Linked DNA regions of Homo sapiens: all the other regions are linked to region 1. The links come from fine-mapping of genetic effects on gene expression. A gene starts in region 1. Each other region holds a variant in brackets. All regions are shown on one strand. Distances are from middle to middle.

The links. PIP is the estimated chance that this variant, and not a neighbour inherited with it, causes the effect.
Region 2: its variant is the best candidate, but not a certain one, in a credible set for the expression of BIN3 in whole blood (TwinsUK, PIP 0.65).
Region 3: its variant is the best candidate, but not a certain one, in a credible set for the expression of BIN3 in lymphoblastoid cells (GTEx, PIP 0.73).

Annotation. Positions count from the first base shown.
Region 1 is chr8:22,663,698-22,673,820 of GRCh38, forward strand. It overlaps BIN3 (bridging integrator 3), which reads right to left and starts at 5,424. Exons shown (of 9, transcript NM_018688.6): 1 at 5,347-5,424. The coding sequence starts at 5,354. RefSeq lists a silencer at 5,124-5,283, enhancers at 5,147-5,776, 5,534-5,593 and a cis regulatory region at 9,283-10,123.
Region 2 is chr8:22,638,294-22,648,416 of GRCh38, forward strand. BIN3 (bridging integrator 3) reads right to left here. Exons shown (of 9, transcript NM_018688.6): 2 at 6,462-6,510. It overlaps BIN3-IT1 (BIN3 intronic transcript 1), which reads right to left and starts at 3,916. Exons shown (of 1, transcript NR_027715.1): 1 at 2,078-3,916. The variant C/CT (reference allele first, on the strand shown) is at 5,043.
Region 3 is chr8:22,619,895-22,629,295 of GRCh38, forward strand. CCAR2 (cell cycle and apoptosis regulator 2) reads left to right here. Exons shown (of 21, transcript NM_001393997.1): 21 at 1-577. BIN3 (bridging integrator 3) reads right to left here. Exons shown (of 9, transcript NM_018688.6): 7 at 4,328-4,469; 8 at 4,021-4,155; 9 at 524-1,674. The coding sequence ends at 1,528. Among named protein-coding and RNA genes, the nearest start is that of BIN3-IT1, 18 kb to the right of the region's middle. RefSeq lists a silencer at 3,069-3,238 and enhancers at 6,562-7,195, 8,463-9,096, 9,097-9,401. The variant C/G (reference allele first, on the strand shown) is at 2,581.

The sequences.
Region 1 (10,123 bases):
CCCAAACCACTACTTACCACCTCCAAGCTGGCCTCCTGACAGTCCGCACAAACACTCTTGACGCATTCTGACTCCACACACCTTTTTCATGCCATGCTTCTTACCTGGATCCTTCTCTCCCTCCCACTGAAACAGCACGTATTTGCTAAGTCAAGGTTCAGTTAAAATTACATCTGCTTCAAGTCTTTCTTGATGATGCCATACTGACATTTAGTGATCGGCTGTCCTTTTGAATCCCTAGCACTTTCCATACACCGGCTGAAGATAGAGATCGACTCATGCAAGTCTTTTAAATGTTCCTCAACATTTAGCACAGACTTTTGCACATTATAAATGTTGAACAAGCATTAAATCAACAAATATTTGTTGAGCACCATGTATGTGCATCACACTATACTGGGCCCTATTTGATGGATTAGCCACCAAAATCATGAGTTTGGGAAAACAATTCTAATAGGTTTAACAGCTGACTCTAAAGCTTACTCCGACAGATTTCCTTAAAGAGTATAATACATATAACACCTCTGACTAAGTAGCTGTGGGACTCAAGACACTTGACTCTTTCTGACTGCTCCAAGATCTGGAAGAAATCCTTCTCCTCTCATTAAACGCCTGAAATAAGAGCAAGCTCACATACAGAATCTCACAGACATTTTATAGGGCCCCTGTCTTCAAGGCATTACTATGCTCTCCACAGAGGAAGAAAAGCTTGGTGTGTCCAAAGTCACAGAGGACATGAGTGATGAGGCTGCCTTAGGCAGGGGCCCCATAGGTGGAAGAAGCTGAGCCAGTTACAGAACACCTAGAGGTCTGCAGGACACAAGGACTTCCTCTATCACTTATGTGTGAAGACTGTCAACTCCCTGTGATTCACTACCAACCTGCTAGTGTCAACACACCTTAGCAAAGTGAAACTCCGTGATCCAATCAGCTTGGGAATGGTCTGCTACTCTTCTAATATTCCTGATCATGGGGACAGAATACTCAGGAGACACATTTTAGTTCTAGTTCTTCCAGGTACTAGCTGAGTGAATTCTAGTAAGTTACCAAGGGGGATCATAAGACTGCACTGCTTGCGCAGACATAAGCATGAAGTCAGACAAAGGACGGGAAAGCCATCTGAAAAGTTAGAAGCACTCTACACATGTGAGACAGCAACGGTAATCATAGGGGAAAGGACTTCACTGAGAAAAAAACTGAATAATGGTTTTGTTTGACCCAGAAGTTTACCTTCTTTATATTCCATTCATTTAACAATTACCTGTTAGATACCCACTATGTGCATGATACCCACTATGCGTACAAAAAGATGAAGAAGCTCTATGTCGCTCCTGTTCTCATGGGGTTGGTGTGGAAGGGAGGTGTACGTCTGTGATACTCAGAAGGATGCAGAAGTGCTACAGGAGAAGCACTATGGAAGTACAGAAGAAACCCAGCAAAGCACTTTGGAGTGGAGGATCAGAAGGAGTGGGGAGGAGAAATCACAGGCAGCCTGACCTGGAAGCCACTTGTGTCGGTCAATTTAACAATAGTACTTTCAGAGGCTCTTCATTTTAGGAAGTGGTTTGTAGGTTCTGCAAGTTTTTATCTTAACATTTTTCCTGAGCTGAGGCAAGTCAGGAAAAGGGAAAAAAGGCCCCATTCATATATTTAATAAACACTTCCTGACTGCCAGGAACAGTGCTAGGGAATAGCAATGACCACAAGACAGTCCCCATACTCAAGAACTCACAGACAAGTAAACCAGCCAGCGGAGTACAGATGCTGATGAAGGTCAGAAGAGCGGCACCCAGTGCAGCATGGCAGGGTGTGAGGGGCCACTCAGGGAAGACCCTCAGAGAAGGTGAAGCGTGGCCTGACTCTTGAAGGATGAGTAGATGCTGGCCTAGTGGACAGGGTGTGAGTGAAGGGGAAACATTTCAGGCAGAAGGGACAGTTATCCAGAGGCACATGGGCACGAGAGAGCAGGAGAAGCTTGGAGGATGGAACACACGGAGTGAAGATGGACAGCCAGGCCCAGAGGGCCTCAGAAGCCCTGGCCCAGAGTTGGGCCTCTATCCTGAAGATGATGGCAAGGGACTACAGGGTGAAAACAGGAAAGAAACAAAAAGGATCAAACATGAGGAACACCAAAGTGTGAAGGGCAGACAGAGGTAGAAGACCCCGGAAGAGTCAGAAAAATATCACTCCACTCATTTCACAGCAGGCTCAGGTGGCAAATTGTCAGCAGGAATGGCCACTCCATGCTACAGATGGAGAAACTAAGACAGAGAACAGCTCAATGCTTGACCAGGCCGCACTGTGAGTGGCTGAGCCAGAACCTGAACGCAGCACTCTAACTCCTACTCACACTTACCTGCTCTGCCTCTAATTTCCTTCCTTTTTGTCAAACTACTGGACCCCTAGGTATAGGGAGATTTCTTCCAGTACTCCCTTTTCCTCCTCGTTTAAGCCTAAAATCATCAAGGTGTATGGTTCAACAGGAGGCTACAATTCCTGGAGCCAGCTTAGATTGAGGTCACTATTCTTAATTCTACTTAATCCTCTCTCCATACCATAATAAAGCCACCTGAGTATACACTGGAAGATGGGGAAGAGAGACAGGAAGGGGAAAAGGGAGACAAGAGGGAGACAGAAATAGGGAGGGAGGGGGTGAGTGGGGAGGAGAGGAGAGAAAGTTGGGAGGGGGGCAAATGGCGGGGGGAGGTGGGGTGGACAATGGGAGAGAAAAAGAGAGCGAGAGAGAGAGAAGCATTTGGCTTGAGGCCAAGAAGTGAATCTGTGATCTGAGATGTGAATATCAAATGCCTTCTTCCTAGTAGGACAGACCACCGGGTCACTTTTCTGAAAGGCAGATGGGTGTATGGGGAGTGGATGGGTAGATGGTGCAGGAAGGCAGCAGGTACCCACTAAACAAACAGGGGGTGGGCGGGTTGCCTGCACAGAGGAAGCAGAGAACAAAGGCCTCTCACTCTTCATGCAAAGTCCACAGTGTGCAAAGGGCATCAATATTGGACATTTCTCACTGTGACATTTTGAAAGCTCAGCCTAGCCCAGAACAATGGTTACCCTCTGGGGACCATGGGCCATGTGCCTTATTTAATGATGGCTTGGCACAGCCCATGTACTTGGTGAACTTGACCTTGGGCATCAGCCTCCCATGATGGCTCTACGTCACTCTGGTCTCTTCCCCTAATGAGAATTCCAGTCTCACATGAATGGATGGATTCATTCTGGGGGCAGGAAAACCACTCAGGGAGTGAATCAGAAGGACCCAGCCCCGGTCTCCTTGCCAGCCATTGAGCTAGGAACTGAGTGTGATTGTGTGCCCAGGCGCCGGTGCTGTTCCCGTCTTTGAGAGACAGGGTCAGGGTCCACGCAAGAGATGACGTAGAAGCCCTTTAAGGGGGAAGAGAAAGGAATCTCAGCTTTGAGGGACAAAGCCACCCTTCTGGCTGTGACTCTCAGTCCAAGGAGATACCAAGATGTGCATGTACTGGTAAATTAAAGCTACTAGATGAAAATCTCAGCTCTTGTTAGACAGTTGTCAATCTCAATTCTCTCCAACCTGACAGGATAACCTTTAAGGAATGGGCTACTATTTTTTCAGAAGGGAAACTTTCTGTGAGACAGGTGGAAACAACCTGCTTCGGATCACCCAGAGAATCATTTACCTTTATTAGTTTCTGCTGTGCTCTTCTCCCAACTTGTGAAGGAAAGATTGGTTCAGTAAAGGCCAATCTAGGCAATATAAAGCATCTGTACTGCCTCATTTTCACTTTGAAAAATTAGGTAAGAACACTCCAAAGATTCAAGACGCAGCAGCCAAAAGGATATCTATATTGCAAGACTGGGGGGCCCAGAATGACACTGAAAGGACGTAATTCCTCTGGGAAAGGGAACTGAAGAATTGCCGCTTTGCCCACCACTAACTAGGTTATAACAAGACAGGGAAGGTAGCTTTTTAAGGCTCCAGCCCCTTATTGGCCTCCTGGAGCAAATGGTGGAGGGAAAAGCAGAAGCTCCTGCCGGGGCTTATTAGGACATTGCTTCAGGCTTTCCTCCCGTGCTTGCGGTGATTGTCTGACATTTGTCCATCAATCTTGGTCTAAGAAACAGGTGGGGGAGGGGACAGATGGTTCGCATTTTACTTTAGAGAAGTATCCCTGACACTGACTGATATCAGCTGCTTGCGTTCTCCACTGATGGCCAAAATTAAGCTTCAAAAGCCTTCCTGAAGGACATTCTGTTATCTTAATTCATTCATAACTGGTTATCATGCGCTTTGCATAAACAAACACACTAGCCTCTGAGGACAGAGTGGCAAATATGTTCCCTATGTCCATGGGCTGATTAATCTTGTACATCTCTGGGGCTCAATTTATTCACACACTATAGTTGAATCCCCTGAGGTCCAGGGTTGTGGCTATATAGGTCCTTGGGCCTGACGGTAAGGTAAGGTGCTGCATATGAGTATTCTCTAACCTCTAAGAAAGCCCCAGGAAGGCAGGCAAGTCACAATTCTCTCCTGTGAACATAAATAATCGAGAGCAACAAATGGGGATTGCCTTTTGGGCAAACTGAGTCTTACAAAATAAATACACCATTATGAAGTGTCTACTATGACCCAAGTATCACATCATACTGCAGCAACTGGAATTGTGACTCTATTACTCTAAGACTCCCTGGCTTCTTTTCTCATGGCATGATAGTTCCCATAAGTTTAAACTTAACCATGCCTATTTAGAGGGCAGGCAGTGAGTAATAGCTCTGGAATGATTAAAACCAGTCCAATCCCACAGTGGAAGGGTGTGTGCGGAGTGTAATTCTGGCCCCTTTAAAAAGAGAAGCAAGTTTTCCTTGTCTTTTGAAGCCTGCTAAGTCGTGCAAAGAGGATAGTTACCCAGAAGGGAGTGGGTTTTGATTAGTGAACTGGGTCCAGGCTGCCACAGCGAGGGCCACAGCTCTGGAGGGACTGGCGCGGGGCAGAGATGCCCACAGGAGAGAAAGACGACACTGACTCCACCTCAATGGGTGTTTAAAAAAGGAGGGAACAAGGAAGTCCCTCACTTCAAGGAGCTAGGAGGACGCGAGTCCGGCAAAACGGGTCAGACGCGGAGTCCCAGGCTAAGAGGATCATCCGCCACTCTCCCCGGGAGTCCTGCTGAGAGACTGCGACTCCGGAAAGCACCGAGGGAACGACCCTAGGGCAGGGGCTGTCGGGCCTTGCTCTGGGGCGGAGGGGTCGCGCGGGACCGGAGGGAGCCGGGACGCGGCACTGACACAGGGCCAGGGGCCTCGCGGGTCCGCGGGTCCAGCAGCTCCCGCCGCCTGGGCCTCACTCACCAGCTCATGGTCCCGAACCTGCGTCTGCCGCCGGGGTCCTCAGCCACAACTCGTTTCTCTAGGGTCACTTCCGGATTCAACCAGTCTCCAGGAAGTGACGTAAGCCCGCCTCTCTGCCCGGAAGAGGCGGTTGGGAGGCGGAGCCCGGCGCGTTAACCCTTCTGCTGCTGCGTGCTCGCCGCGGAGTTTCCCTTGCCGGCGACTCTCTGGCTCTGGCCAAGCGCTTAGACACACAGGCTGCAACGGGGGATGAGGGGAACCTCTGGGGGCGTTTTCTGCCTTCAACACTGACTCCTAAAGATCTCTTCACCTGACCATGCAGGGCCCTTAGCCGGGCTGTCCCCTCTGTCAAGTGGTTTCTAATCCAGAGACAGTGGCAGCAATTGTCTGTGGGAGAAGAAGCCATTTGGGATGGAGAAAGTGGAAAACTTACATTCTCTGAATGCTCTTTCCTATCTTTTACAGTTTGTACACCACACATGCATTACCTGTTACAAACAAACGGACGTTTCCCTTCCAAGATGGCACAGGGCTCTGAATATCAATAGATAGGTGCTTTTCAGGTTGGAATGTTTCCTAGAGTTATTCAACACAATAAGACGCAGAGTATGAGTTGTTCCCTGCCTTTCAGCCCTTCCCTTTGGTCTCCTCTACAGGACTCAAATGATGTAAATTGCCCCATTCGTTCTATTCCTTCATTTAACTAATACTAGTTGCACTAATATTAGTGTCAGGTACCGAGCCAACCTTAGGATACAGCTATCTCAGAGAAGTATCTGCCCTGCTCTTGTTCCTTCCCAGAGCTACTTTCCTGGAGGGAGAGACAAGCAGGCAATTATAATCATGCTATAGGATAGGATAGAATGAGGTGTGGTGGCAGCCTAGAAGGGGACCCTGAAGTAGCACATGGGGTTTTGGGGAAGGCTTCCAGGAGGAGCCAGTGTGTAAGCCAAGCCCTGAAGGCAGAATCGGGGCTAGCCAGGTGAATCTGAGATGAGGGGTGACGAGGCTCCAGGCAGAGGGAACTTACCATGGCTAAGACACAGACAGGACCAAGCAAGCAGCTGACTTGCCTCGGGTCTCCCAAAGTCAGAATTCAGGGCCTTAGTGGCTCACAAGTTGCCTGGGATTCTGGGCCGACTTGGTTTCCTCACCGCTAAGTACCTCCCTGCCTTGGAAGAGAGACAAGAAGGCAGTGAGGCCCGTGCAGGTGCTGCTGGGCCCCCAGTGACCTTCTCTCTAGGAATTCTCCTTCCTCAGATGGACCGGGATTGTTTCAGGGACTGCTTAGGGGGTTGCTAATCAATGACCTAGCGGGAAAAATATGACCAATGACCTAGAGCAGAAGTAGTGTATGATTTGTTTTGACCTCCTAGGGTGGAGTAGAGGGCTTGAGCAGGAGAGGTAGGAGGGTGGGCCACAGGATGCAGTCTCTCATTTGTGTTTTCTGTTTCCATTCTTGAGAGTCCATAGTTTGACTCAATTGACGTTTCCAATGGAGGTTGGATCCCCAAGCACATCATGCAGATCAGCTTCATTACCATGTTGTTCCTCAGGAAACAGGCCAAAATGAGCACAAGAGCAGCCTTGAAGAGTAAAGAGGAAGAGCAGAAGTCACCAAAGGGTAGCCTGGGCAGAGAGTGTGGGTAAAGGGAAAGAGAGAGTCCTTGCTGCTTTGCAGAGAGTGTGACGGATGGAAGGGCTGTTGTGGGTTTAGGAGCCTCCTGGCAGTTAGCACCTGTGAATAGTTTTCCCACCTGCTTCCTCCCTTCCCCATGTTCTGCCTCCCTCAGTTATGCCCCACAGGGATAAATATTTCCAAACGTTTTAGCCTAGGTAACTGCTATATCCTAGTAGAAGTCTGTTTCAGGGCTGGAGGGCAGCAGACACATCCTAGAGGACTAGAATGGATAAGTTCTGGACTACAAGTCTGGAGGAGTCTGCGGCTCTATTTCCAGTTCAACCTTTGACACTATAACTGACCTCAGATAAGTCACATCCCCTTTGTGGCCTTAGTCCCCTCATCTATAAGATGGAGTGGGTAGATCACATCCCAAAGTATCCAACATTGCAAGGTTCCAAGTCAGCTGTCTTGTTGACTCTAGAGGCCCTAGGGAAATAGGAGAATGGGAAAGGCAGGTGAACAGAGGGGCAAGCCCAGAGAAGTGGGCAGGTCTGAGGAACTGGTGATATCTTGGATAAAGCTAAATATGAATTTTTCTGGGGCTGTGCTGTTGACAGGTCACCTCGAAATCTTTAATGCAGCCAGCAGGATCTTTGAGGTTACTAAAAAGAATGGTGTCCTCCCAGGAGTCTGTCTGGAATGTGCCTGCTTGGTCTCCTTACCTGTGGCTCATTCGCTCAGCTAGAGGGGCACTGGGCTGAGGAGGGACAGTCAGGCATCCTGCTATCCTGTGTTCCTCCATGAGCCTGCTGTGCCATGAGGCATTGATCCCTGGGGAGCTGAACATGGAGACACACAAACACTTCCCACTGTTGTGAAAAACTCAGCCTGCAGGGTCGGGAGCTATGTCTTTCTTATTTATAACCAAAGGGACAGCATGATACAGATTGATCCTGCCCCTGCAGGGAAGGAATGGAAAAGAGAAAATTGGGTTTCTAAGTAGAAGCTGAGAGTGGAGGCGCTTTGGGTAGAGGTGGATACTCCTGGTTTCAAGCCTTGTAAATACTGATTCTTCCCCAGAAGTCTGAGCCTGAAGGTAAAAGACTGTTCAGGTGGCAGAGGTCTACTTCTGGGACAAAGCTGTTTACGAGGGGAAAAGCAGCAGCAGAACCTGCTCCACCATCAGCCCCCAACTTTTCCTTGGAGGTTTTTGCTCAGAAGTTGGTAAGCAGGTGCTTCCCACTGACTCTCATCTCTGGGATTGTCATGTCCTGTCTCTCCCAGCCTTTCCCACACAGAAGTCTAGGGCTGGCCCCCGAGTCTTTCACCATGCCAACCTCTTATTAGTGAAGAGTGAGCATTCCCAGAACCTGGACCTGGGCTGTCAGGGACTTCATTATAGCACTGGGCTAAGGCTGAAAAACTGAATGTGATAGGGCCAAATTGGTGGGCTCAGCTCTCTTGGAGCCCTAAAGGTCTTGATTCCTCAGGGAGGCTCCTGCAGATATTCAGACACAGGCCTCAGGTTTCTCTGTGGCCTCACTGCCCCACTTCTCCCTACTCTGTACCTGCTCAGTAGGACGTCTCAGAAAAATAGCTTTCCCAGGGCCTTTGGGGGGCAAGGACATAGGAGGAGGAGCAAGGGTGGGAGAAGAAGGAGGAAATCAGGGTGAGATTTCCAGTGGTGGGAGGCCCACACGGACTGCTCAAAGGTCAGGGTGAAGTGACACATCAGAAGCCAGGACAGCAAGAAGCGAGCAGAACCAGGAACGCCTGTCTGACCCGTGGCTCTGCCTCCAAGTGGCTTGAGGGAGTCTTGTCCCTCCTCTGGGCCTCATTTTCCTTGACTGCAATGGGAAAGGTCCAGGTTAGATCTGGGAGGGCGAATGGATATCATCCCATGTGCCAACTCTGATTGTCTGCTTGGAATGCAGTGTTGAGGATTCTGGGGAATCTGCCATCAGTGGGGAAGTTCTATGATTGATTAGTCATGTCTGCCTTGGACAAGAAAGAGCGATGAGATGGTTTATATTCCACTTTATTGTTATTATTTTTATTATAAGTTAACAATAATTGAGCACTCATGACATGACAGGCACTATTCTCTGCAGTTCACATTTAATCCTTGCCTCAACCCTGTGAGGTGGATACTACCATTATTATCATTTCACAGATGATGGCGCTGAAGTATAGCCATGAAGCAATAGTATAGCTTCATGAAGCAGTGAAGTGGGGTTTCTGACCTGAGCACCCTGGCTTTGATCCTTATGCTTTTGCCACTACAGTTTGCCATTTGACCTCCAACAACCTTTGGTTCTGTCAAGGCACAGTGAGGTCAGAAGCCAGCAGACAGATGGAACCAGGAGAAGCACCGCTACTAAATGGCCAGGTTGTGGGTGGAGGGAGGGCCACCCTATGACCAGGGTGCCAAGCTCAGCCTCATCCTGGGAGCTTTTATATGCTTCCTCCAGTACGGAGAGTGCCAGGCCAGCAGGTGGCAGCACCGGGCAGGGTGACAGGAAAGGGCAGCTCCTCACATGGCATGGACGTCCTTCAGGGATCAGAAGGCCCAGATGCTGGGGAAAGCAAGAACAAATGCGGGTGTGGAGGAAGGATAGCCAAGGACCCAGAGGAGGAGGAGTCCTGGCCTCTGACCTGCAGGAGCTGCCACAGCCAATGCTTTGGTTCCACCCAGCAGTGCAGGCCTCTCAGCTTGCATCTCGTGGTGCCTGCTGTGGGCTTTTTTTTTTTTTTCCTCCACTCTGGGAGAATGACTAACTTTAAGGACTAAAAAAAAAGTGTTTTGATTACACTGCCTTTTTACCAACTGGGAGCATTAGTCACCGTGGATTGCTGCAGATAACGGGGAAGGCAAGCAGCACCCCCTCCTCCCCCTCCTTCTCTCTGATTAGCTCACAGAAACCAGGAGGAGACATGAGTGAGGGAGAGTGCACCAGTAGGGAAAACAATCCCCCCGGGTTGATATGTTCCCTGGGCATCAGGCCAAGGGCTGTCCAGGCTGGGCTGCCCCCTGACAGGTAGGCTCTAAGATGGCCCCAGACCCACAATAGGAGGTACCCACTGGAGAGAACTGGCAGTAGGACCACTGAGTCCAAGGCTCCTGAGATTCTGAGTTGGGTCTGGATGGTCTGT
Region 2 (10,123 bases), 25 kb before region 1:
AAACAGCATTTATGCTACAAATGAGGAGCCCGAAGCCCAGAGACAGGAGTGACTTCCCTAAGGATGCAGGACATTCTGGTGGCAATGCAAGGCTAGAATCCAGAGTCCTGGTTCAGGTCTTTTTGTTTCAAATTTAAACAACATTCATTCCTACGAACATGTATGAGCACCTATTAAGTGCGATGCATTCTGCCAGGTTCTGGGGATACCCTGGTGATTCAAACAGACATGGGCCCTGGTGGTGGAGATAAACAACTGCCAGATACAAATTTACTTGCTGACTATGATGGGCCTTTTGGACAGCAGGAATGAGGCCAGAGAGAGTTGAACACAGAGTCTGCTTAGCTCTGGCTCTCTGGGCATGACAACAGACTCACTGCATGGAGATAGCTTACCTTCCTCATTTCAACTGTAAAATCCAGAAGCAGGAAAAAAATGATCTTTTCCTTACTTTATGATCCTAGCATCTAGAACCTTCCACAAAACTGTGAAGTAAAACCCACCATTGGTGCCCCCGCCTCCCATCCTACAATCTTTCTTCCTCTTTTCAACAGACTCTTTCTCCATCCAGGAACCCACTATTTTTATCATTACTTACCTTAGGATCCAGCAAAAGCTACTCGTAAGAAAAAAATTCAAAAATCACTCCCACTAAAGCACAAATGCTTGATGAGCATTTAAAGTGTTGCCTGTCCCAGGGGATTTACAAGTTTGCAGGAACCAAAGTCTTAGCTAAAGGAACGGAAAGACTCTGGTGTAACTGCAGGTGGGAAATTTGCTTTGGTGTGAAGGAGCCTCGCCAGGGCCCTTGAAAGTCTGTACTTTGGTGTCAGCCTGGTTTTCTCCAGCAGGGCTGGAAGAATGCAGTTTAGAGGCATGAGCAGAGACAGGTAAGATATGAACTCTGATACTAGCTGTGGAGACTTGATAGTACTAAGCATTTTTTTTTTTTTTTTGAGACAGGGTTTTGCTCTGTTGCCCAGGCTGGAATGCGATGGTGGCATCATGGCTCACTGCAGCCTTGACCTTCTAGGCTCAAGCAATACTTCTGTCTCAGCCTCCTGCATAGCTGGGACTATAGGCATATGCCATTATGCCTGGCTAATTTTTTAAATTTTAGTGGAGACGGGATTTTGCTATGTTGCCTAGGCTTGTCTTGAGCTCCTGGCCTCAAGTGATCCTCTTGCATTGGCCTCCCAAAGTGCTGGGATTACAGGTTTAAGCCACCTCACCCAGCCAACTTTAGGTGGCTTACGAGGAAATAGCTGATATCATCTACCCCAGTGGTTCCTTTTGAGGATTAAGAGGCAGTGCGTGTAGAGCAGATTGCAAGGTGCCTGGCCCATGGCAGTCCTCACTAAATGTTAGTTTCTGTGTTTTTCTCCTGCTCACTGGGGTGCTGGGAAGACCAGAGCAATTTGGGGCTGCAGGCTGGGCTATAAACCTGGGCTATAAGCTGCCCCAAGCACACAGGAAACTAGCAGCCAGGGAAACCCTGATGTTGGTTAAGGGTGGAGTCCCATGCTTGGGTGTTGTGATAATGCCCTAGCTCCCTTTACTAGACACACTTTTTTTTTTTTCTTTTGAGGCGGAGTTTCGCTCTTGTCACCCAGGCTACAGGGCAATGGCGTGATCTCGGCTCACCGCAACCTCCGCCTCCCGGGTTCAAGCGATTCTCCTGCCTCAGCCTCCCGAGTAGCTGGGATTACAGGCATGTGCCACCGCGCCTGGCTAATTTTCGTGTTTTTAGTAGAGACAGGGTTTCTCCATGTTGGTCAGGCTGGCCTCGAACTCCTGACCTCAGGTGATCCCCCCCGCCTCGGCCTCCCAAAGTGTTGGGATTATAGGCGTGAGCCACTGTGCCCAGCCTGCTGGACACATCCTTCTTCTTCTTTTTTTTTTGAGACAGAGTCTCACTCTGTCGCTCAGACTGGAGCGCGGTGGCACAATCTCTGCTCACTGCAACCTCTGCCTCCCAGGCTCAAGCAATTCTCATGCCTCAGCCTCCCACGTACAGCTGGGACTACAGGAGTGAGCCACCACACCCGGCTAATTTTTGAATTTTTTTTTTTTTTTTGGTAGAGATGGGGTCACCATGTTGCCTGGGCTGGTCTTGAACTCCTGGCCTCAAGTGATCTGCCTGCCTTGGCCTCCCAAAGTGCTGGGATTACAGGCATGAGCCACCGCGCACGGCCCACATCTTTCCTCTAACCTTGCAGGATATGACAGCTGAGCAGCATCTTTACTTATTAAAAGTATTTATTTCCAGAAAGAGAAAATTAAAACTAAGCACTACTTGGCCCAAACCAAACCCCTCTAGAGATCCAGAACACACAGGGGGCGCTCTTTGGGAGGGGTGCTGAGTGTTAGCTGAACCCCGGGGCCCTAGCCTTTGGCTCCCTTCCTCCCTTTTGCAATCCCCCAAGTGTGCCGATGTGTGTGGGATGTCAGACAACACCTGGTCTCCCTGGCTGGGGACTGCTTGGACTTGTACCGGGAGGGACTTCAGGTTTTCAGCTAGGTTGATCATCCTGGAAGCTGAGGAACTTGAGGTCTCACAATGAAGCTGAGGAGAAGGTCAGGGGTGGGAGCGCGTTTTCTACTTGGTGCCGCTCAAGGCCATCTGACAGCCTGAGAGGAGTTTGGACACATTTCACCTCCCCTGCTTCCAGCGGCCGGGGTGGGTTGCTTCTCTAGCTCACTGGTCCGAGAGTTCTCTCCTCCACTGGGGAAAGATGCACGGGGACACTGCCAGAATTCTAGCCTCTCAGATAATGGCTAAGGGACTAAAGGGACACACTGGAGCCTCATTCCGAGGAAAAGAGCCAGACAGAAAAGATCTGAACATCTTTGAATGCTTGATGCCTTTGCCAAAAAGGCAATTGGACCCCAGTCAACAATGCAAGTATAAACACATGTGCACGGACCATCAGGGGATCAGGGCAAGCTGGGCCAGGCTGGCGAGGTTAGCTCAGGGAGAACCAAGCCCCAGACGACTACCCGTGGCCACCCCCTGCATTCATTCTCCAAGGCCCACGGTGGGAGGAAAGGGTTTTGCTGTTCCCTGCTCTTTTGGCAGTGCACAGGTCAGGCCCTGGCACAGAGTGGGAACTCAGTATGAAGTGAATGAACAGGCTGAGTTCCCACCCAAACTTATGCTCATGGTGAAGTGAAAAAGGAAACTGGCAGGCAGGGCTGGGGCACTGATCCCAGGGCTGAGGTGCATCTGATCGGAGTCTGAGAAGCCCAGAATCCTCAGCATTCTGGGAAGCCCCTCCTTCAAGGGATGCTCTGCGTGGAAAGTGGGCTCCCTGTAGGTATGTTCTAGCAGGATTAAGCAGGATTAACGAGGCTAAGGGCCCCGCCACCTGGCAGATGAAAATCCTTCTCCAGTGGAGAGGCTGCATGTGGCCAGACTCTCTTTGCCCTAACTTTGCAGAGCACCCACCTGGCTAGGAACCTTGGAGCGCATGTTCCTTGTGTGCAAGACTCACAGTAACCCTTGTTTCAGGGGGACACGAAGAGCAAAGCTTCGAAGAGCTCTTCCATCCTCCCAGGTTATGGAGGAAGGTGTGGCGGCTTCTTCCTACGCTACGATGCTCCCGCCACTTTATGGGACCTGGGGAGTGGGAGGGGACTGGGTGGAAGGTTAGGATCGGGATCGGGGGAGCTTTTGTTCCTCCATCTCAGTTCTAATGGTCAGCCCCAGCAGGAACAAGCCATTCTAGCCAAAGCCTTGACAATAATGGAATTTGTGTTAATAACCTGGGCACAGGAGAGCAGTGAGGGTAGGGACACAATGCTTTCTTTGTGCCTGACAGTTGGGTGCCTTGAGCCAAAAACCTCCTGAAACTCCCTGAAGATAACGTGAGCATTTCTTCCCATGACAGGGGCTCCATGACTTCCAATAACCCAGGCAGCCACAGCTGCTCCCCTCCCTGAAAGTGCCTGGGCAAGAACAACAGAGTGCGTCACTGCTGTTCAAGGGCAGCTGCCAGAGATGCTGAGACAACTGCACAGCCCAGGCCTGTTTTGGGGGCCGGGAGGGGGTGGTGGGTGGGGAATGAGACTGAAGAGGCAGGGTCTTACTACTTCTACTTCAGTGCCTCTGGGGAGTGGAGGGGTATAGGCCAGGGAAGCAAATAACTACTCCGAGCTGTAGCTCAGCTGTGATTCCTTGTGAGAGATCAAAGGCCCAGCCGACTTTTGTTGCGTTGGGAAATCTAGCTGCCTGGGACAGGCTGAGTCCCTGATGGTTCATAAAGAAGGTCAAATCAACCAGCTTCCTGTGATGTAGTTAACTGGGGACTTATTTTGTGCCAGACACTGTGTTAGGTGCCTTCAGTGTATTATCTTGTGTGAGCCTCAAAGTAACATCTGTGACACAGGTACTGTCATCATCCTGATTTTATAAACGAGAAAATGAAGGCTCCAGAGGTTAAGGAACTTGCCCAAGGTCAGAGACAGCATGTGGCAGGGCCAGGATGGGGACCCAGGCTGCCAGCCTCCCAAACCTAGTTTCTTAACCCCTACCTGACCCCCAGTCTATCAGAGAGCAGATGCCATAATCAGAGGACCACAATTCCATCTCCAGCGAGACAGATGCGAGGAAGGGAAGAGGGATGCCCTGTGTGCATCTGCCCGCACTGCGAGTCCTTGCCACTCCTTAGATCAACGGAGCCAGAGATCTTGCCACCAACACACTGGCAAAGCAGCTGGTTTGTCTACACTTTCTGTGGAGAACAAAGTTCATTTTGATAAAGGTTGGGGTGCTGGGAGGGTTTTTGTTTGTAGTGAGCATTCAGAATAAAAGAACCCTCTTGAAACCACTTCCCTTTCAGATCTGTCATGGATTAAACTCTGGAGACTCAAAGCCACACCTTCCCACTTCCTGCAGCCGGCTAGAGACCAACATATGCACACCCAGATTCTTTGGACTTCAGCTGAGAGCCTCCACAGATGGTCAGCCTCTGCATGAGAGGTCAGCGCTGAGTTGGTCAGCACCCTGCCTCTGCATGAAGCAGAGAGGCCCCACCCCCCAA[C/CT]TTTTTTTTTTAACAGACAGGGTCTCAGTCTATCACCTAGGGTGGAGTGCAGTGGTGCAATCAGAGCTCACTGTGGCCTCGAACTCGTGCGCTCAAGCAGTCCTCCTGCTTTAGCCTCCCAAGTAGCTGGGACTACAGGCGTGCATATTTTTTGGTAGAGTCGGGGTCTCTCTTTGTTGCCCAGGCTGGTCTCAAACTTCTTGCTTGAAATGATGCCCCCACGTTGGCCTTCCAAAGTGTTGGATTACAGGCGTAAGCCACTGGACCCTGTGAGGGTGCTTTTAACTTGGGCCTGTTTCCTCTCAAGTGACCTTACTCTGGATTTGCTAGAGATGGAGCCATTGGTCAGATGTGTGCCAAACTTCTCACCACACTGAAGCAATCTCTTTCCTGTACTTTTGAGAGCTCTGCCAAGGAGGGGAGAAGCTAGTAAGACAAGGAGAACCGTCAGGGGCTGGGATGACAGACGAGGGCCTCTGCCGCCAGCACAGCACCGGACTTCCTGTAGCTGTCACATCAGAGAGGCTCTACAGTTGTGGTCTCCCATGTTAAAACCAAGAGACCCACTCAGATTTGTGGGTCAGGAGGTTGAAAAGGCTATTTTGCACCGGGATTCCAAAACACTGGGAGGGCTTCACTGCCCAGGGAAGCATGAGGCAATGGAAAGAGTATCAGCCAGGGGCTCACGCCTGAGTTCTAACTCCAGCTTTGCCAGTGTGGGGTTTTTATAACTTGAGGAAGTCATTGCAACTTTCCACGGGCCTCATTTTCTTCATCAGGAAAAATCAGGAGGTTGGACTAGATGGTCTCTATGAGCTTCCAGCTCTAACTTCCTAAGAATCTATGATTCTCTTCCTTTCCCATTCTGGAGATAAAAACTTTCTAGGGATAAAAACTGTGGGCTTAAAGGGGGGTGGGATTCAATCTTCCTTTCCTGCTGAGTGACTCTGGGTCATGGCCAAGAATGCATTTGGAAGTTGACACAAACAGGCCGAGGCCACTGGGAAAAGCTTCCTGGAGTTTTCTGCAGCTGAGGTAACAGAAATAAATGCCTGGGCAGTGTCTTTGGTGGGGGCCACTCTTTCAGGAACACTCTTAGGAAAAGTATAGACCACAAGCCAGTCCCTAGAGGTGGACCGTTCTAAAGCAATATCTTCCTCTACATTTTTGTAATCCACCCATTCCCCCTGCCCAAGGATGATAAAGAGCCCAGGCTAACCTTTCCTAGGGGAAGTGTCCCAGGACAGGAGGCCCCTCTAAGCCTCAGTCTATGTGAGGTTCTAGATCCGCATAAGCAGGAAGAAGGCCCAGGTTGCTGTCTTCCCAGCCCCAAGATGTGTTGATTCAAAGCTTTGATTCTTATGCAAAGGCCATGTGATACAGAACTGAATCTCACAGCAAAACAATCGAGTTACTCACTGTTTTGGGCACAATCTGTTTCTTGGGCTGCCCAATCTTAAAAGGAATCCTATAAGAGAAAGAGACAAAGAGAGATATTGTGAGAAGTGGGGAAGGATGCAGCTCAAAGTATCAGTACAGTACAGGCCACTTTCCCCCAGGAGGGCGAGGAAGCGTGGCCATGGCTTGCTACTTGGACCATGTGCCCTGGTGGGCATACAACCATTGGCATCTGGGCTTGGTTCTAAGAGAGAGATAGGTCCTCCCACCTACAGTGTCAGATGCAGGTTGCTCTGCCCCAGAACATCTTTGCTACTGATAGTCTGTCATTTAAAGAAAATGAAAAGGTGAGGCCAAGGAGTTTGAGGCTGTAGTGACCTATAATTGCACCACTGTTCTCTAGCCTAAGCGACAGAGCAAGACCCTATCTCCAAAAAAAAAAAAAAAAATCCGCTGGGTATGGCAGCTCATACCTGCAATCCCAGCACTTTGGGAGGCCCAGGTGGAGGACTGCTTGAGCCAGGAGTTCAAGACTAGACTGGGCAATATAGCAAGATCCTATCTCAAAAAAAAAAACACAAAAAAACAACCACCAAAAATTAGCCGGGCGTGGTGGCACATGCCTGTAGTCCCAGTCACTTGAGAGGCTGAAGCAGGAGGATCACTTAAGCCCAGGAGTTTGAGGCTGCAGTGAATTATGATCATACCACTGCACCCTAGCCTGGGCAACAGAGGGAGACCCTGTCTTTTAAAGAGATAAAGGAAGGGAACAGAAGGGAAGAAAGGGGAAGGGGAGGGGGAGGAAAGGAAAGGAAAGGAAAGGAAAGGGGAAGAGAGGAAAGGCGAGGATGGCAGGAAAGGGAAGACACCCGCGAGGATGGCAGGAAAGGGAAGACACCCTGTGAATGACAATAAAACCTTGTGTCTTGAGGAGGTGCAAACTCAGAAATTACAGACTCACTGTAATAGCTATCATCCTTGAAATCACGAATCATTATGGTCTATATTAGGTGCTTTGCTACTTCTCTATAGAGGGGCAAACTTTGGATCTGCAAATCTTCTTTGGAGGCTGGGGAGAGTTAATAAATAACAGAGGCATTAGTGATTGGCCGGGCTGGATTATTTCCCTGGGAAAACTCACAAAATCAAAAAGCTGCTAACTTGGAAAATAATCTGAAATCCAGCCCAAGTCTGCCTTGGACTTGCTATGAAGAGCTGCACCTCAGATTCCCTACTTTACAGCATGGCACAGCGGAAGGAGGATCATGGGTCTAGGAGTCTCAACCTGAGCATTAGCCTGGCCTCCGCTTCCACTGAGCAGGCTGCCCTTCGGCAGGTGACGGCTGCACTGGGACTCCATTTCCTGCTGCATAAAACGAGTAGATTAAACTAGGTAATTTAGGAGCTTCCTTGAGGCACTGAGCATTCTATGATTCTCCAACTCCAGGAAGAAAAGAGGCCAGGCTAGAAAGTGCATCCCAATGGCTATGGAAAGGGTAGACTCCCGATCCCAGGTAGGAAGTGAGTCAAGAATCCCTGCGATCAGCTCCGGCAGAGGGCTCTCAGCCAGCCATGCTCATCCCTCTCCTTTTGGCTCTTCCATTCAAACCTCCCGTTTCCACAATGCACCAGACCCGCTCCACCAGGCCCACATCCCACCCTTCCCTCCACACCCCCTTCTCCCTGAGCCTGCTTTCCTTTGGCCCAAACTGACCAACACACTGTTGCTAAACCCAAGGGTGTAATTAACCACCGATAATGACCCCAAACAGTGATCCAGTGGAGGGGATGGGCCAGCCTGAGTCACAGTGGTTTAAATTTAATTTCTGGAGGACATCCTGTTTATTGTTAACCCAGCCCCATAATTTGGGAGTGTTAACCCTTTGGGGGCTGGCTGATTCGCATCTTCTGTAAACAAATAAATTCTGACTACATAATAACCAGGGAGGAAAGGTAAGGTCTGGAAATGAAAAGGAAAGAAAAAATGAAATTGTTGCTTCCTTTCTCAGACCTAAACAGAAAAGGTTCACGGGGAGATGGGTTCCTTCCCCACACCCTGGTTACTTTTCCCATTCTCAGGGATTACAGCTGACAGACAGGATGGTTTTTGGACAGTGAGCAATTGCCCTCAAGGACCATTCTGGAGACAGTGCAAATGAGGTCCTGGTGGCAAGGACCACTCTGGAGACATTGCAAATGAGGTCCCAGTGGCATTGCAGACAGACAGCCTGTATTCTGTGGGAAGCATGCTGCAGCTGAAAGCGCTCTCGACCCGGTATCAGAAAACGTGGCCTCTGCCTCCGACTCATTTTGTGATTTGAACAAATCTCAATCTCTCTGGAGCCCAGTTTCTTAAACTATAAAACAAAGGAGTTGGAATCCCTTCAGCTTATCTAAAACTGGAATTCTAAACTGAATCTCCACTCCAAGAATATGGGGAGTAGGATGAGAATTCTAAAGAAGTCTCAGAGTGGTCTTCAAAACGATTCTTGGAGTTTAGTACTGTAGACAAGGGACCAAGAATCAGAAACGTAGATTCCATTATTTGTGGTGTGACAGCCTCCCTCTAAACCTTAATTTAGTATCACGGTATTTTTAGAACTGTAAGTTACCATAGAAATTTTTTCCCCAGTTCAACCCTCTCCTTTTGTAGATGAGGAAGCAGATCCAGAAAGGTTCAGTGACAAGCCCAGGGTCACTCTGCTGGCTCACAAGAGAACAAGGAAGAAGCAACCAGCACCCCTGGTGTCCAGCCCAGTTTTCTCTCTGCTACCCACAGTTCAATACTCTTTTCACATGAATTTGTTATAAGTATGTGATGAAAACACCTAGTCTCAAAGTCCTACAGAATTCCAAGGGGCTCATTGTTCTTAAGGGTCTGGAAGTGAATGGGAGGACGTTCGTGCTGAACTGGGTGCTCTGGCACAATAAGAGGTTATGTACACCACGCAGACGGAACAGCTCTTTCCTTGTATTTTCACCACAGTTACTGATGATCACAGAGACCTATCATACTGTTCTGATTATTTTTCAACTCACCTGCTCAAAAGCCCTATTAGAACACTTTAAAAAAATCCTTCACATTTAAAAAGTTTTAAAGAAAAACTGTGAGGCCGGGCGTGGTGGCTCACACCTGTAATCCCAGCACTTTGGGAGGCCGAGGCGGGTGAATCACGAGGTCGGGAGATCGAGACCATCCTGGCTAACACGGTGAAACGCCGTCTCTACTATAAAAAATACAAAAAAAAAAAATTAGCTGGGCATGGTGGCGGGCACCTGTAGTCCCAGCTACTCAGGAGGCTGAGGCAGGAGAATGGCATGAGCCTGGGAGGCAGAGCTTGCAGTGAGCCGAGATTGCGCCACTACACTCCAGCCTGCGCGACAGAGTGAGACTCCGTCTCTCAAAAAAAAAAAAAAAAAAGGAAAAGAAAAATTGTGAAGGAAGTACATAATTCCTATGTTGCCCACCCTCAGTTTCCCCTTTTATTAACATCTGATATTGGTGTGGTACATTGGTCACAAACAATGAACCAACAGTGAGAGTCAAGACTATCCTTTCTTCAGACCTCCTCAGTTTTCCCCATGTCCTTTCTCAGTTCCAGCATCCCACCCAGGTCCCCACGTCACCTTCAGTCACTATGTGCCCCGAGGCTCCGCTTGGCTGTGACAGTTCCTAAATCTCT
Region 3 (9,401 bases), 44 kb before region 1:
ACTAAATACAACATCTTTTGCACCCCTAGAATGTCATTTTGCCCTCAACCTTGGTATTTCTCCTGGGGCCCTTTTAGTCTTGTGCTGACTTTCTCCTGTCCTCTTCCAGTTTAGAATAAGACAGGGGAGAAAAAGGCTTTTCGAGTGTGGGACAAGGTCTGATGTCAGTGAACGGAACTGAAGAGCAAGACATGGAGCCTGGCTGGGGCTAAGCAGCCCCCTCCTCCGGATGGCACAGGCTCTGCTAGGTTCCGGACACAGGCTTCTGGGGGAAGGGTCTCCCTTGGCCATCACGGGAATGGAGTCCATGCTAGAAAGAGCTCAGTGTTGGGCTGGGTTTGCCAGTAGAACACTGCGTTCCAGTCACCCCGGTCTTGCCAGAAGAAACCAGCACCTCTTTCCCGTGGCTCCTGTGTTCAGAATGTGGTATTGGCTCTGGCCCAGCCTTCTCCCCTGTTACCCATAATTCTTGCCTCTTTCCATAATCCGTGGTTTCAGTTTGACTTTGTATATAAAGTTGGGGTTTTTTTTTTTTTTTTTTGGCTTGTTTTTTAAATAAACCAAAGTCAAAAACAAACTGAGAGTGTGTCCTCCACAGCTCTTCCTACTCTCCTAGGCTTGCCCGCGTGCCCTCCCACCCAGCGCCTCTGCTGGACCACGGTGCAGTTCGCTCCAGAAGGTGGGCCAGGGCCGGGGAGGTGCGCACACACCCCTGGCATGCTGGGCTGCCTGCTGGAGGGTGCTGCTGCTCCGTGGAGGGCAGCAGGCCCAGGAAGGGGTTTCCTCTGCTCGCCTAAGTTACAGCACAATACTATGTGGACGTTTCATTGAAAATTTTACTTGAAAAAATAAAATTCCAGATACTCAGGTGAGACACAAACCCACTGTTCCTGCTTTGAGACCTGTGAATTCTTGTGGGACAGTTCCACTGACAGCTTGCGTTCCCGAGGTACCAGTCCTCAGTGACCTCGGGAACCCCAACCACTTAGGTCCCAAAGCCACAAGGGTGCCCTTTGTCTTGCTGGGAAGCTGGCTGAGGGCCTGCCAGGGCTGGAGGACCAGCTCTCCCGCACAGGGTTCAGGGCCTCTCCCAGAAAAAAGAGGTTTTGAAGTGAAAAGGCAACGAGGGGCCAGAGGGCTCCCCAGGATGGGTCTTTTGGAGGTAGATTTGATGCCCACAACGCATGCAAGGCTAAGACCCCCAACTTAGCCAACGAAGCCCATGGCCTCAGAAGGGCTGCAGCTTGCTCAGGCCGTGGGCCAGGATGCATGCTGGACGGTTCTCCAAATAAAAAAGCCCCAAGGGTTTGTCTACACTGCTTACCTGCTGGGGCTGTGAGTGGGGAGACGGCGGCCTGCCTAGGGCTCCTGGTGCCAGGCTCAGGAAGAGTCATTCATTGCAAAGGGCCGGCAAGTGAACCAGGGCCACCTCTGTCCCCAGCCTGTGAGAGGAGCAGCTAGCCCTGAGAAGGGCAAGGATGAATGAGGCTGACCACGTCACAGGAGTCCTCCAAGAGTGACGGGGATTCAGTCATCGGCCACAATGGAGAGGGCCCGGAGCTCACTGAGTTTGGCCTCGTTCTCCCGCTCCCGCTGCTCATCGGAGTGGCCTGGCTGGTCAAGCTGATGGGACAGGTCTCCAAAGATCTTGTGCATTTCCGAGTAGTACACAACCTGGGGGAGGCGACAGGGGTTGGCACGTGCTGGCTCCAGGGAACCGTGTGCTTCAGGGGGCCAGAGGCTCACACTTCTCTGCTACCCCCTGCCCTTACCCATCTGGAGCTGTGCAGCAGCGTGCCTTTGGGGATATGCAGGGCACGGAAGGGCTCTAGCTGAGACTGAACCAAAAGGAGCCGGGGAGCAACAGGGCCTCAGTGGCTGGAGGTGGAGGCGCCCCTGCTTCGGGCTCCTGGTTCCCCCAGCAGCAGGTGCAGGAAGGCATGGGCCTCCTAGGGCGACTGTGGAATGATGGGCACCATGACTGGAGTTTTACTGCTTTTTGTAAGCTAGGGGAGAACCCAAGGCTTTTGTCCATGGCAGAAAGACAGCATGGTAGGCTGATGGCTCCCAAAGCCCTAAGCCAGCTTTAGAGGCACAGGCAAGAAAGGGGATGCCCGTCTAGCCTTCTGTTCCCTCCCAACTTGCATCCCACCCTTGCTCATGGCCCAAGCTGCGTGGCCAGGGGGACAGCTCAGAGGCCAGGTTCACTGCCAGGGTCCCTCTAGGGAGGCACCAGAAATGGTGTGGGAGGGGACACAGGGTTGAGGGTGGGGCAGGTGGAGGAATGGGGAAGCCCGTCAATTCTCCCAGATGGCTGAGGACCAGGGGCTTTTCCACAGACAATAGGGGCCACTTCTGCCTCAGTTTCTACCTCATGACCCAATGAAAGCATGCAGTTTCCTGAAAGCTTCCACGTTTCACTCTAGACATGAGGAGGAGCTCTAGACACTAAGGGGACCTTGTGGGAAATGCCAGGTGGGGCGGGGACCCACGGCTGATACTCCTGAGGCGAGATTTCCGCCGGCCGAGGGGGTGCTAAAGTGAGCTGGTCTCAACACACTGCTGTCACCTCTGGGCTGG[C/G]GGCGGCCCACCCTGCCCCCACTCCCTGCCCAAGCCACTGTGCGCTGAGTCACTGGGAATACTCACTTCTCCATGACTAATGGCAGCCGGGCGGGCGAGGGGGAGGCTGGGGCCCAAGAGGCAGTCAACAGCCCCCAGCAATGCTGCCTGGTTAAAGGGCATCCCTGGCCTCCCATCTGCTCCAACCTGGACACGCGGGAGCCTGGCACCCTGTGGCTTCCTCCTGTGAGCAACAGGAGGGAGGGTGCAGGGCAGCACCCAGGTGACAGTGAGGAAGAGGCAGGCCCAGGTCTCCCGTGAACCCAATGGGGCGGCTGGAGGGAGCCCTCGCTGCAGGAGCAAGTGTCAGGAGAAGTCCCTACCTCCTCCTGCAGAAGGCTCTAGGTCTCACTGCCCCCTAAAGATGGCACAGGACCAAGTACGTGGGTCACTGACAAGGTCCCGCCCCGGCATGAACCCTGCTCAGGTGTCCTGACTGGGGCAGGTGGCCACCCTGACTTTGGCCCGGCAGGGTGGGTGTGCACTGGCCAGGCTTCACGGCTGCGACTACGGGCCTGCAGGAAATGGCCACTGGAGGGCGCCAGACGCCCAGCCACGCTCAGACCACCCGGGCCAGGAGGGGCAGAGCCACAGGGACCTGGCAGGGTGCCACGGGTGTTGGGGTACTAAGGCTGTTGCTGAGCGCAAGCCATCAGCAGGGTCCTGTGTGGAAGGGACCCGCTTCTGGCATGGGTGCCCACCCTTTTCTATTTTGCCAGTTGGGGGAACAATCCTTCCTAAAGGCTTGAAGATGGAGGAGGGTGAGGAGCATGCCACTCCGTGTCCTCCCGTCCCCGAGTGGAAGGAGACGCTGGGGCCTGGCCCGTGTCTGACCCCCAGTGGCGCCCCCATGCCTCCAGGCCTGCCTTTCCACCCCAGGGCCCTAGGAGCAGCCCTGATTGTGGCTCTCCCCAGGGCTCTGGAGCCCCCTTCCTTAGTGGTTCCAAGGCAGGACTCCCGCCGTTTCCTGCTAAAAAGACTGGCTCACGGTAGGCAGGGGAGGGGAGCTGAGTCCTCAGAAAAGGCCTCCATTCTCCAGATCCCTTTCTTCTCGGCACCACCCTGGGCCAAGAAACCGCCCACTTGAGGGTGCGGGGCAGAGGAGCTACTTATAGTGAAATGTAGAGAGATCCATGGCGGAACTGCTGGACCAAAAGGGAACCTCGGCCATTCCTGGTATGGGATTTACCAGAGAGCAATGTGAGGAGTCTAACAGCAGACAGGTCCCCCAAGTCGCTGAGCCTGGGACTCTGGTAATGGAATGAATTCCTTCAGGGCTTTGCCTGGGGTGGGTGCCCTGTCTTTACGGAGAATGGCTAAGCCACCCTTCCAGTGTGGGTGACAGGGAGTGGCATGAGCTGTGTATACCAAGCCCAGGGGAAGAGCACCTGGCGGCCTCACCTGAGCTCGGATGAGGGACTCAAAGCTGGGCTGGAAGTAGTCGAGGCGGCTGCCGTAGAAGCGCGGCATCTCCTCCAGCAGCTGCCTGTTCTTGGCTTCAAAGTCCTCCCGCACAGGCCGCAGCTCCTCTCGTGCCTAGGGAACAAGACCTGGGTGTCAAAACTCTCTCACTGCTGGGTGCCGGATACGGGATGGGTGGGGTGGGGACGTCTGGTGTCTTGGTGCCCCCAGGTGAGGGGAGGGACTTACCACAGGTGACCACGATGGCCCACCTGTCTAGCCCCTGCCCACCTGTCTCCCCTGGTACCTGGTGGAGCTTGGCCAGCACTGGCCCCGTCTTCTCCTTTTCCTCATACTTCTCCACCTTGGCCTGCAGCCTCCTGTAGTCCTGCAAGGCCTGTTCCCGCCTCTTCACAGCCATGTTGAGGCTCGGGAAGACACTGCCGAACCTGTGGGACAAGCTGGCTGGAGATGGGCCCGTTCTTGAAGGGGTGGCCTGGCTGGAGATGGGTCTGCTCTTGGAGGGGTGGCCTGGCTGGAGATGGGTCCGCTCTTGGAGGGGCGTCCTGGCCAGCACTCACTTGTCCAAAAATGTGCCCTGAGCACCTACCAAGCGCCAGACCCTGCTCTAGGTCTTGGGGAGTTCACTGTGAACAAGACAGATGAGGCCCTGTCCCCTGGAGCTTGTGCGAACGTGGACAATGTCATGGGGTGAGGGCAGATGAGAGGAGGTGGGGTTGTGGGCCAGGTCCAGGGAGCTGGGTGGCACAGGGTGGCCCAGGAATGAAGGGTGCCCTGACCCCCACCTCCTGTGAGCTTTATCACACAACGGACTAGGGGATGGTGGGGAAGGTGCCTTGAAGTCATCTGGCCAACACCTCACTTTTAAAAAGGAGGGAAACTGAGGACAGAGAGAGATGACCTATGACTCATCCAAAGTCACGATGAGGCAGAGAAGGTCTAGAAGAGAACACAGGTGTCCACATTCTCTGTCTGGCACCCTTTCCAGCCCTCACAGTGCCACTGGCAGGTGGCAGAACTGAAATCTAAACTCACCCCTGCCCCAGGGCACCTTCTCCTTCAAGGGCTCCTTGGCAACATGAAAGCAGCAGAAATCCTCTGGCTCTGCCATTGGAACCGCCAAAGTTCCAACCAGCTGCTTCAGGAAAATGCCCTGAGGACCTCCACTGTGACTAGAAGGGACCGCGTGGGAGACTCAGAGGAGTGGCCCTCAGAGAGAGCAGCAGTGGACGATGCAACGCTGCAGGTCCACACCGGCCTCGTCTTTGTGGATCATGTGTCCTCTAGTGACCAGGAGCAGTGCTCTCCTGAGGCTCTCGCTGCTGCTGCTGGAGGGCTGGCCCTCGGTGCAATGGCAGGGGGCGTCTACCAGGCAAGCCAGAGCCCTGCAGTGTCCAGGATCAGGCTGCGCAGCCCAGGGAGCTCATGACTCTGTGGCCATTCGGAGGTGACCCAGGACCAGAAGAGTTGGTTCCTCCTGGACATTTTTATGAGGAACCCAGAGAGGAGGAAAGACGAGGGCAGGAAGCAGTTACTGAGACTGGGATCATAGGCACTCAGAGTTGAGAGGATGCTGGCAGACTCACTGTCAGGTTCCAGGAGCTCAGCTACCACACAGAGCAGGACTCCCAGATGTGCCTCTCAAAGGACATGACCAGGAATTTGGTTTTGAGACAGAGTCTTGCTCTCTCACCCAGGCTGGAGTACAGTGGTATGATCTCTGCTCACTGCAGCCTCCACCTCCTGGGTTCCAGCAATTCTCATGCCTCAGCCTCCCGAAGAGCTAGGATTACAGACGTGTGCCACTACGCCCAGCTAATTTTCGTATTTTTAGTGGAGACGGGGTTTCACCATGTTGGCCAGGCTGGTCTTGAACTCCTGACCTTGAGTAATCCACCCGCCTCAGCCTCCCAAAGTGCTGGGATTACAGGCGTAAGCCACCGTGGCCGGCCTGTTTTTAAAAAGCCTCAGCAAATCAAGTGTACATTTGAGGTAAGAGTAATGAACAGTTTTGCCAGGGAGTAAGAGGATATTAACTTTACCAAAGCATTAAATGCCCCCAAACTAAGTCAGACCCAGGGAGTAGATTTTGATGAAACAAAGGGCTTATCCCCAAGACAGGAATCCTCTACCTCAACAGTGTCCATAAGGGGCTCCCTGTCTTAACAAGGTGCTAAGTGGGTGAAGCCACCAAAGCACCCTGAATGCTCACCCGTGCCCTTAGACATAGTAATCAAACCAGCATCTGACCGACTTGCCGGGCAGAAGCCATGGGCCTCCCAGGACTGTGCACAGAGAACGCGGGCCCCTCAGCACTACGGAACTGAGGGTGGGAAGCAGACACCACCAGGATGCATAGTCGCCCATGGCGTGGGCTGGGGTGAGACTGCTGGGAGGAGCTAGACTTGATGCTTTGCCCAGGGCGGCTGCGTGGTGGAGCTGCAGCTGCTGGGGAGCCCTGCCCCCTTCCTGGGCAGCTGAGAGGCACGTGTTCAGGCAGCAGGTGCAGCTGGGCCTGAGAGGCTACCAGGCCACCTCTCCCTCAGCCCCAAATGGCCAAGGGACCACCGGCAGCTACCCTGGTCCTCGCCCTGATCCTTGTGTTAGAAGCCACCTGCTGCTTGGATGGTCCCAGTGCCTGGGCCTTGTGGGTGCCTGGGAGCTGCCGGGTAGGTGCAGGCGCTGGGACAGGGCAAGGATGAGGCAGGCAGGAGGCAGCAGGTGGAGAGCTCTCTGGCCCTGGCCCCAATCCCACCACCCTGAGCTCACATCCTCAGGAAGGAGGGCATCACAGCGTGAAGCCGTGTGTGCGCAAGGTGGCTTCCACGGTGCAGGATGGGAGGAGCCCTATGCTCGTTGCTCCAGCAGCCTGACCCCCCAACATCCCCTGAGGCACTCTCATAGCCCCCTTCCCACAGCTGTCGGCTGGGGCTTATTATTTCCTGTGCCAGAGTCAGAGCCACCAGGAGCGCTGACTACAGCGGAGTGCCGAGCGGGGGTGAGGGAGGCCGGGTTACAGAGCTCCTCGGGGGATGGCGTGGTGGTGTCTCCAGGTGGCCACCTGGCTGCATGGGCTCCTGCCAGCCCCCTGGAACCAAGACCACCTGCCTCTGCAGGCCGCCTGCCCCAGTGGGAAGAGCATGTCTTCACCATGAAAACCTCCGTTTCCCATGACAGCACCCCTTAGCCACCAAGAGGCTCTGCCTGCTCAGGCCACTGGAGGTGATTGCTGATAAATTACAACCACGGTGGGGGGAGGTTGGGTCCTGGGATTGGGATTCCCTAGGGGTAGGGACAAGTGTCACACCTTTCTACATTCAGTGGGAACTCACATCAGTCAGGGCAGGGCGCAGCTTGTGCCAAGGTGGCTGAAGAGTAGTGGACCAGGACTCTGTCACATCTGCCCTGGTCACTCACTGACCCTTTGAGGCCCCATCTCCCCGTTTTCTACTTCTTAGCAACAGAACAGACTTTGCCAAAGCCCCGGGGTGGACAGTGGATGTGCCACGGTGCTGTGTGGGATCTCAGGTCAGGGCTCAGGCTGCTGGCAGGGGAGGTGGAGACGTGCACAGGCTGGGCGCCTGTGCCAGCCCCTCCCAGATATGTCCCTGGGACCCCACAGAGGCCCTGCTGACTCTACCCAACCACACTGGGGGAGCCTGTCCCCAGGCGTGAAGCCAGGACCCAGGCTCCACTCTGCTGTTCCAGCGCACTTCACCCCTCCTCTCTCCCTGCCCACCTCAGCCCACCAAAACCTCCTCTCCCACTCCTAGGTGCTGACTGTCCCATTATGAGAAGTCAGTTTGGCTTTCTCTTTCCACATGTGAGGAAACAGCCTCCGAGGCCAGGTGGGGGCAGGTCAGACAGCCCACCGAGCATGCCCCGCTCCATGGTCCTGCACCACGCTGGCAGCTGCCACACCTGGCCGCTGACCTGAGAACACGCTGTGGCTTTCCACTAGACTGTAAGCTCCTGAAGTCTGTTTTACATTTATCCTCAAAGAAGGGGGCCGGGCTGGGCCCAGGCCAGTGATCAAAGCATTACCCATGATCACTGCCCAATTCTTGTCTGTCCTAAGGCTCAATATCAAACTCACTCCCCTGGGGATGGGAGGGGCGAAGAGGAGAAGGAGAGGGAAGGTGAGCGAGGCCGGCTGGGAGGTGGGCTGGGCGCAGCCAGCACTGGTGGGGAATGCCTGCCATGCCTTGGTCTGTGCCCACGCAGCCGGGAGCTTCCACCCACCAGGAAAGGGAAATTGAAAGCATCCCCATCCGACATGTGAATACGGCCCAGAGACTGGGGATTAGAGGCCGAGCCCCTGCAGGGAGGCTGGGGGCGGTGGGGTGGCCATGTGGCCGTGATCTTCATCAGAGGACAGGAAAGCTGGAGTTTCCTGTTTCCGGTGCTGGGGTCCCTGGGAGCTTCTCTTCTGGCAAGAGGAAGCCAATGGGAAGAGGCTGTAGGCTGCGCGGTTTTATGTGGTTGGGGGAGATCGTATGTCAGCTGTGGGGATGCAGGGAGAAGCCAGCCAGGCAGGCCTGAGGGCTCATGCAGAGGTCAGCGGATCCGCTGCGGAGATGTGCGCCCCCTCTGCCACGCCCCCACCTTCCTGGCAGGTGGTGGGCCACCAGGGTGGTGGGAAGTGGCCGGGGTTTCTCTCCATTTGGGCTTCAGAAGCCAGGGATCAGATTTCAAGGGCGCCTTGCTGATACTGAAACTGAGGTGGGAGTCAGTTCCCCAGTTCTCTGAGTCCCTGCCTCATTCTACCAGCCATGGGTGCCTGTGGCAGCCTCTGTGTCCGTCTCTGGGACCCCTGTGGCCCTGGCACAGAAAAGCCCTCTGTGGGCAGGGTCTGCTCAGTCTATGTCCTTCCCAACCAGCCCTGAACAGTCTGTCCCGAAGCCCAGGACCAAAACCCACAGCCACGGAGCTCTTTCTGCACCCCAGCTCCCTACGCAACCCTGTGGCATGGGGCTGCGCTGTCCCCAGCAGGCAGGGGGTGGTGGATGCCCACTCTGGGGAGGCTGGGGGGCCAGGGCCGGAGCCGGAGGCACAGTCCCTTCCCTCCCTGCCTTCGCTGAGCCTCCACGGTCCTGGCTTAGAAACAAGAGCTTGCTAGGGTCAGGCGGGCCTTTTCCTAATCCCATACTTCAGGCCTGCACAATCAACGAACAGCTCAGCAATCCGAAACACCAGGGGCTGCAGGATCAAAAACTGCTCCTCTCATTGCCGTGTGGGCCCTGGGCCAGGCCAGTGATAATTAGGCAGAGCCTCATTACCCGGCCCTGGCAAGGCACTGCCTGGGACCACCGCAGAAGAGGCAAGGAAGTGCAGCTGGGCGAACAGGAGCTTTCTAGGTC